Homo sapiens: one gene and its partner. The protein of the gene in region 2 purifies or fractionates together with the protein of the main gene of each other region. This does not show direct contact. Each region holds a gene or a part of one and is shown on either strand. Other genes may lie near its edges.

Evidence for each region.
Region 1: the proteins of CST7 (region 2) and COL6A1 purify together in Homo sapiens (affinity purification with mass spectrometry; one large-scale study listed by BioGRID and IntAct). This does not show direct contact.

The regions. Positions count from the first base shown.
Region 1 is NC_000021.9:46,002,159-46,005,824, reverse strand, and holds the end of COL6A1 (collagen alpha-1(VI) chain precursor), read right to left. Parts: intron 3,608-3,666; coding exon 3,424-3,607; intron 3,299-3,423; coding exon 3,115-3,298; intron 2,706-3,114; coding exon 2,676-2,705; intron 2,435-2,675; coding exon 1,812-2,434; 3' UTR 777-1,811; downstream 1-776. UniProt on the Homo sapiens protein: Collagen VI acts as a cell-binding protein.
Region 2 is NC_000020.11:24,952,008-24,956,059, reverse strand, and holds part of CST7 (cystatin-F precursor), read right to left. Parts: intron 1-4,052. UniProt on the Homo sapiens protein: Inhibits papain and cathepsin L but with affinities lower than other cystatins. May play a role in immune regulation through inhibition of a unique target in the hematopoietic system.

The sequences.
Region 1 (3,666 bases), on a different chromosome or scaffold from region 2:
GGTCCCCAGCATTTTCCCGCAGCTCTGGTGGCCACATGGTGTGACGCATCGAGCGAGGCGTGTCCCTGCCTGTGGCACCTGAGGGGCTCGCCGGGGTCCCCGCAGGTGAAGGCCTTCAGGAAGCCCCACCCTCACCCTCGCCGCCCATCCCTGCTGCCCTCCTCCAGCCCAGCCCTCGGCCGATCCTCTTAGTCCCCTAGCGGCCCCCAGAACAGCCGTGCACCCCGGATTCTGGGATTCAGGGGCCACTAACTTCTTTCTTTTGAGGATGAGCCCTCGCTGCCTCTGCCCTCCGCCCTCTTCTTGCTCTGCCCCAAAGGTGGAGCCTCCCAAGACTTCTTCCTCTGCCCCAAAGGTGGAGCCTCCCAAGACTTCTTCCTATGGGCCCTGCAGTATCTCAACTCCCCTTCCGAGCTCCCAGGGGTATTTCAGTACCAAGCCTAGAACCTGTGGCCGGCCTCTGTGGTTGACCTCGGTGGATGTGGCCGGCCCCAGCCCACTGAGGCCTGATCTGCTCCCGACCCCAAAGCCCAGGGTGTTGCCTTCTCAGCTCCTCTCTGTCCACAGGTGCAGCATGGTCTCCATGTCACCGACGCAGACGCAGATAAGGGGCATGGATGGACAGCTGTAGCCAAGGGCAGCCCTGGTTCTGGCCTGGGACTGGTGGTGATGGGGGTTGGGAGTGAGCACGCACGCACACGCCCCCCAACCTCCTGTGACTGCTCCTTTGGGGCACACGGCAGGATTTTACTTTGTGGGGAAGATAACCACAGGGAGAGGAGTGAAAACCTTTATTTGGAAAAGTCAGCAACATGGATATGGTTCAGAAAAAAACACAGAAGGAGCAAAACTAACATGAACATAGAAAGGGGGCCTTTGATAAAACGTCGAACACATCACTATTCTGAGGAAGGAGAGGTTTGCGTTGTTTCTAGTAAGACACAGCCCTCTGTGGCACCAAGGGGCTCTCATGTCCAGTCCAGGCCCCAGTCTCTGCGGGAGGGAGGAGCAGACGGGGTTAGCACCGTTAATCTCGAGGGTCTTGAGTGCAGCCAGCGCCCCTGCGAGTACTCTCTGAGGTCGGGGTCAGTGCTGGTCAGCAGCGGCCTCCAGGGCTGTAGGGCCAAGGTCCAGGCCGGTCACCAGCAGGACCCTCAGGAGACGGGGCCGAGTCGCCGAGATTTATGTCTGCAACGGCCTCCTGACCTTGGTTTCCCAAAACGAGACAGAGGCCAATGGCTGCCCCAAGCTGAGGAGAAGAGCTTGCTTTGAGTTTAATTGTAAAGTAACTGTTAGGTGAGGATTGGTGGGAAAAACCAGCTATGGGGACAGAGGAGAGGGAGGCTAGTGCGGCACAGGCCCCGAGAGGGCGTCTTGCTCAGGCTGGTGGGATGCAGCACAGAGGTGCCTAGGGAAGGAGCTGCGCAGGCAGGAGGGAGGGCGGGCAGGAGGGCAGGGCAGGAGAGCCCGGGGTGGGGAACCCAGGTGAGGCCAGCTCAGGGCTGAGCCCCAGAGGGCCCTGCACAGGTGACGCCAGCTCAGGGCTGAGCCTCAGAGGGCCCTGTGCAGGTGACACTAGCTCAGGGCTGAGCCCCAGAGGGCCCTGCGCAGGTGATGCCAACTCAGGGCTGAGCCCCGGAGGACCCTGCACAAAGCAGGCAGCAGCGTTGTGTCCTGGCTTTCCAAGCTTTTCCTTAAAAAAAATCTAGCGAATCAGGTTGGTCGGGAAAATTCGCATCACATTTTACTCTGTTTAGTGATGAGTGGGGAGGGGTGGGAGGACAGGGTTTGGTGCCGGCGTGCAGGGTGGGCTAGCCCAGCGCCACCTTCCTGGAGACTGTCTGGTGGAAGACACCGCGGAGCAGGGCCTGGTAGCTGGGGACACGGAACAGGTGGCTCTCGCCGTAGGCCACGTCGTACTCGGCCGTCTTGCCGGTGACCAGGACGCGGATGTGGGGCTCATTCACCTGGCGGCCCACGACCACCACGAAGATCTCGATGCCTGCCCGCTGGGCTTCCTGCACGGCCTTCTCGATGGCAGCGGGCGTGGCGCCCTGCGAGTTGCCATCTGAGAAGAGCAGCAGCCTCTTCTTGGCAGCGCCGGACGAGGCCTCGCGGTAGAAGCGGGTCACATAGCCCAGGGCATCGTTGACGTCGGTGGCGTCGTTGATAAAGTCCATGGCATCGACGGCACTGGCCAGGGCCGTGTAGTTCTGCAGGAACTGCAGCGACGCCCGCTCTGGGCGCTGCTGGCCCGTGCCGCTGTACTGCACCACCGCCACCCGCACGTCGTGGGCGGGGTCCGTCCTGCCCGCTGTGAGGAAGCGCTCGGCCAGGCGCTTGGCGAAGCGCTTGGTGGTGTCAAAGTTGTGGCTGCCCACGCTGGCGGAGCCGTCCAGCAGGATGGTGATGTCAGCCGGGGAGGAGAACGTGACTGCGGGGCGGGGTGGGCAGCCGTTAGCATGAGGCCCTGGTGATGCAGCCGCAGTGGGCCGGCCAGAGAGCGTCTAAGCTCCCCAGAGAGGGCACGGCACGGTGGTGCTCAGCCACCGGAGTGAGCCATGCACCTACTCTCGTGACCGCCAGGCCCTCCTCCCAGAGCCCCGTCCTCTCAGAGCCCTCGCCCCAACCACGGTGCCCTCCTCCCCACGTGTCCCGGCCGCCGAGGTACTCACTGGGGCAGGTGTAATCTGGACACTTCTTGTCTGTAAAAGAGAAAAGCCGTGCAGTGTGAGCCCACTGCTCCACCTATAACCCCGCAAGGAGATGTCACAGGACCTCCCGGCCGAGCACAGGGGTGGCCGTGCCCCCGGAAGTCACAGCGAGCCGGGAGGAGGATGCCTGTGGGACAGCCCCAGGCGGCCCCGTGCGCACCTACAGGGTGGCCGTGCCCCTGGAGGTAACAGTGAGCTGGGAGGAGGCCTCTGGGACAGCCCTGGGCGCCTGCGCGCACCTACACAGATCTGGGACGGCCCTGGGCGGCCCCGCGTGCACCTACGCAGATCTGGGACTGCCCGGGCGGCCCCGCGTGCACCTACGCAGATCTGGGACTGCCCGGGCGGCCCCGCGCGCACCTACGCAGATCTGGGACTGCCCGGGTGGCCCCATGCGCACCTATGCAGATCTGGGCGGTGACATTCTTCAGGAAGGCATCCTCCAGCAGCTCTGCATAGTTCTCCTTGACCAGCGAGAGGCCGGGCCGGCCCTGGGATGGTGCCAGGCCTTGGCAAGAAATGACATTGAGCTGGTCTGAGCCTGGGATGAAGTCAAACACGTCTTTGATGCCCACGGAGACCACCTGTGGGGACAGACAGTATCGGTGTGGCGCAGCCTGCTCTGCCCTCGTCTTTCTGGGGACAAGGCCACCCTGGCTGGCGGGGCGCCCTAGGCGGGGCAGGTGCAGCCTGGGGGTGGCCACCCCACCTGGATGCCGGGGCTGCAGAGCACGTTGAGCGGTGTGGTGTCCCTCTGAGTGTCTGAGCGCCCGTCAGTGATGACCAGGGCGATGCGGTTGTTCGGGCTGGGCGGCAGCAGCTGGTCCCGCGTGTACTGCAGGGCCTCCCCCGTGAAGGTGCCGCCCGCCATCCACTGCAGGCTCTTGATGGCTCTGCATAGCAAAGGGCAGGAAGGGCCGGTTGGGGCCAGGCCTGCCGCGGGGCCGAGCCC
Region 2 (4,052 bases):
AGTCTCCATTGTGAAGGGAGGCCACCTGGCAAATGGCTGTCCCGTGGTTGGTTCTGGGCCAGAAGGTGAGCTTCATGGCTGGGCTTTGGATGACTGTGCCTGCCTTGTGCTTTAGCAGCCCAGGGAGCCTGGCCTTCCATCCCAAAAAAGCAGCGCAGTGCTGGTGCCCCACCCCATAGAGAATGCTGGCCACGTGCTGGTCCTGTGTGCTGGTGGATAGCTGTGTCCTGCGCTGGCATGCCCTGGGACTGTCCTTCACACTAATTAGTGTCACACACATCCCCCCTGAAACTGCTGCAGCCTTTGCTTAAGAAGACTTTAGGTGGCTCACGTCTGTAATCCCAGCACTTTGGGAGGCCGAGGCGGGCAGATCACGAGGTCAGGAGATCGAGGCCATCCTGGCAAACACGGTGAAACCTGGTCTCTACTAAAAATACAAAAAATTAGCTGGACATGGTGGCGGGCACCTGTAGTCCCAGGTACTCGGGAGGATGAGGCAGGAGAATGGCGTGAACCCGGGAGGCGGAGCTTGCAGTGAGCCGAGATCGCGCCACTGCACTCCAGCCTGGGCAACAGAGCGAGACTCCGTCTCAGAAAAAAAAAAAAAAAAAAAGACTTTAGGCCTCTGAAGATGGAATAGAAACCGCTCTGTTCCTGAGCACCAGGGGCTGAGCTTGGCCATCTAGGGGAGGTCCTGGAACCTGCATTTCCCCAGGCTCTCAGGTGACTCTGACACTGGTGTTGGCAGTGAGGGGTCCCTTGGGACCTGCAGTGTTACCATCAGGAAGGAGGGGTCCCCAGAGCCAAAGGCAGCTCCTTCTGGTCCTTGTGCTTGTTGATGACAGGAAGTTGAATGTGGCTTTTAGTTAAAACAAAAAACTGTTCTGGAAACCAGCTTGGTTTCAGCTCATCACTGTCATCTGAACAGCAGAGAAAGAGACACGTGTATGGAAGGGGTAGCATGTGTTCAGTGTATTTTTGCTGTCAGATTAGCGTTTTTTTTTGTTGTTGTTGTTGTTGTTTTGCTTTCTTTCCTCACATTACATTAATATGGCTGTCCATTGTTTTCTTTGTAAAAACTACATTTTATGGCTTTTTCTGACTATAAACTTACCTATTTTTGGTAGAAATTTGAAAAATACAGAGGAGCATAACAAAAAATAATTATTTTTAATATCTTAAAGCTAACCACTATTAACTTTTTTAAAAAATAAAATGTATTTACTTTTGCTTGAGATTAACAGAATTTTAAAAATGAAGTGAAACTCAGTTTACGCTGAACTTCAAATAAATTTCCCTTCCAAGCTCATGACGTTAGTTCCTAAAAGATTGTGGTAAAGTTACAAAAAGGTTATGAAAAATACTGAAATTGGTATTTTTTATTTAACTACATGTTTCCTAAAATGTAGGCTTCAAGTCAATAAACCTTTCACTGTCTTACAGTTGTCTAAACAGATATTAAAAGCTCAGTTTTTAATTTAAAATTGTTTAAAAGTCAAACCTATTTTTAGGATGATTTGTTTAGAGAAATTAACAAGGAAATGTTGATCATTAAGAATTAACACCCCAAAGAGGCCACTCATCTTCAGGGAAGAAAACAAGCAGTCCAGCAGGTGGTGAGCGAATGCAGCTCTTTGAGAGCCTCCGATGGAGTCAAGGAACTGTGAAGAGGACCCCCCAGGGAGGGGGCTCTGGGTTTGCTCCGTGCAACTGAAGGCAGGGAGCGGGAGAATGGGTGCTCTCCTCCTCTGCCTGCTCTGTCTGGAGGGCCCTGCGATGCTGTTTCTTCTCATGTGTGCCCATTCTGCAGGCGAGGAGACCAAGAGCTTGGAGTGCAGGGTGGGGGGCTAAACCCAGGTGTGACTAATTCGAAACACCACTCTCACTTTTTCCTCATTCAAGACGGACTGTTTGGCAGGTGCTAGGGGAGATGCAGGGTGGACTCTAAGACAGGCCCCGCCCACAGTGGTGGGGAGGCAGAGCAGGCCTGGGGCACAGGAGAGGACACCAACCTGAGGGTAAAATGGGTGAGCAGAGGGGCAGGGGATGGGGGAGCAGCTGCAAGGTGGCTGAACTGGCCTAGGGGAGGAGGGAGCTACGTGCTGGGAAGAGTTGGGGAGACCCCGCTGGAGGCTGCTGCTGGGTGCAGAGGGTGATGGTGGTGATGGCCGCGATGACGTCAACGGAAAGAACCCACGGACCGTCAGGCTTGTGAGAAGAAACAAAAGGCACATAAAATCCGTCTGTATAGAAACAATGCCTGGGGCAGGCCAGGCCTGCTCGAGGGGAATGGGGGACCTGCCATGTGCGAGGCTCGCACCAGGAGCCTGCCGGGGCAGCCTGACCCCAGCCCACCACTGCTTCTAATGCGGGGTGGGAGGGGAGGTGGGCCATGCCTGAGACAGGTAGGGAGCTTCCAGACGTAGAAGCTGGAGGTGAGGCAGGGGCGGGCAGGGCCTGATGATACCAGGTGCTGAGCAGGCCCCAGGACACATGGTCACAGGAAGGCAAATGAAACTGTCCCCTAAGGTTGACAAGAATTGCATGCCAGGTTCTGGACAGAAAGATACTCATAATTAAGCTTGAATCAGGCTGCTGCTGGCCCAAGATGTTTTTCAGATCCCAATTCCAGCAACCAGTTTGGAAACCCCCCACGGAGGAACAGGATCATCACGAAAATACAGCTTCTTCCTCTCCCTGTGCTGTGACATCACGCTGCCCCTTCCAGCTATCGAGCTCCAGAACCCTTAAAAACCCGGGCCCCAGCCTCCTCGGGGAGATGGATTTGAGTTTCCTCCATCTCCTTGTCTGGTGATCCTGCGATCACCCTGCTTTTCTGCTGCAGCCCCGTGTTTCTGAGCATCTACTGGCTGTGTGCATGGGGCAAAGTCCTGTCCGGGTGCCCGAGGACCAGTGTGCAATGGGGTGCAGATGTGAAGCTGCCAGGCCAGGGGAGTTGCCAGGGCCTCTGCCCAAGGCAGCAGGGAGCTGCAGTTTCTGACAGCTGCTGGGCATGCCCTGGGCAGGGTACGTTCCTGTCCTCAGAGCATAGGCCCAGTGGCAGAGCTGGCACTAAGCCAACCTGAGGAGAGAAAACATGGGCAGGGATCGCTGTGGTGGCACCAGGCAGACCCTTCCCACCTGCCTTTAGTAGGAAAATGGGTGGGCACAGCGGGGGCTGGCATTGCCCACCTCCTCCCTCTTTCAGGAGTGTTCTAGGTGTGGCCGGGAGGTTGGGAAGCCCCTGCTTGTGAAACCATCCCTGAGATGGGGACCTGGGTGCCGAGAGCTGGACGCAGATGGTCCCTGCTGGTGTCCCTCCCTGTGTCACCTCAGGGGGTGCCCTTTCCATGGGCCAGTACTGAGCTGGGTGGGGAGACCCTTTGAGAGGGGCCCCATCGGCCCCCATCACCCAGAGCATAAGGTCTGCATGGCTGTGCCTGAGCACTGGGGTGTTGGGGGGGTGCAAGTCCAGCTTAGAGGTGCTGGTGTTCACTCTGCCCACCTGGAGACGCTTCACCCCAAGCCCTCTCACATGACACCATCAAAATTCAGAGAGCCTGGGTCCTTGGGGCCACACCTGCCCGCTGTGCTCTTGGGTCTCTGCCTGATGGCTAATGGCGGAGTCTATCTTTTGAGGGCACACACATGCCCCTGGCACAGACAGGACACTGAGCTCTACCAGATCAGTCCCGACCTTAACCCACTGGGACACACCCGGAGTTTGAATTCCAGCTCTGCTTCTCACTGGCTGTATGATCTCAGGCAAGCTGCCTAACCTCTCTGAGCCTCCGTGTCCTCACCTGTAAAATGAGGATGCTGACGACAGTGAGAATATATGAGGCAACATACACGAAGCACTTGTCAATAAATGATGTGCAAAACTGTAATCATTATCAATATATCAAAATGCACATGGCCACAGCAGGGGTCTCAGGGCAAATGAATGCCCCCATTGGGAAAAACAAATCTTGCCACGTAGACGGTGGCTCAGCCTGCGGCAGCTCCCAGTGCTCCCCAGGAGGCAGGAGGTCCCCGGGCTGCAAGTGGTC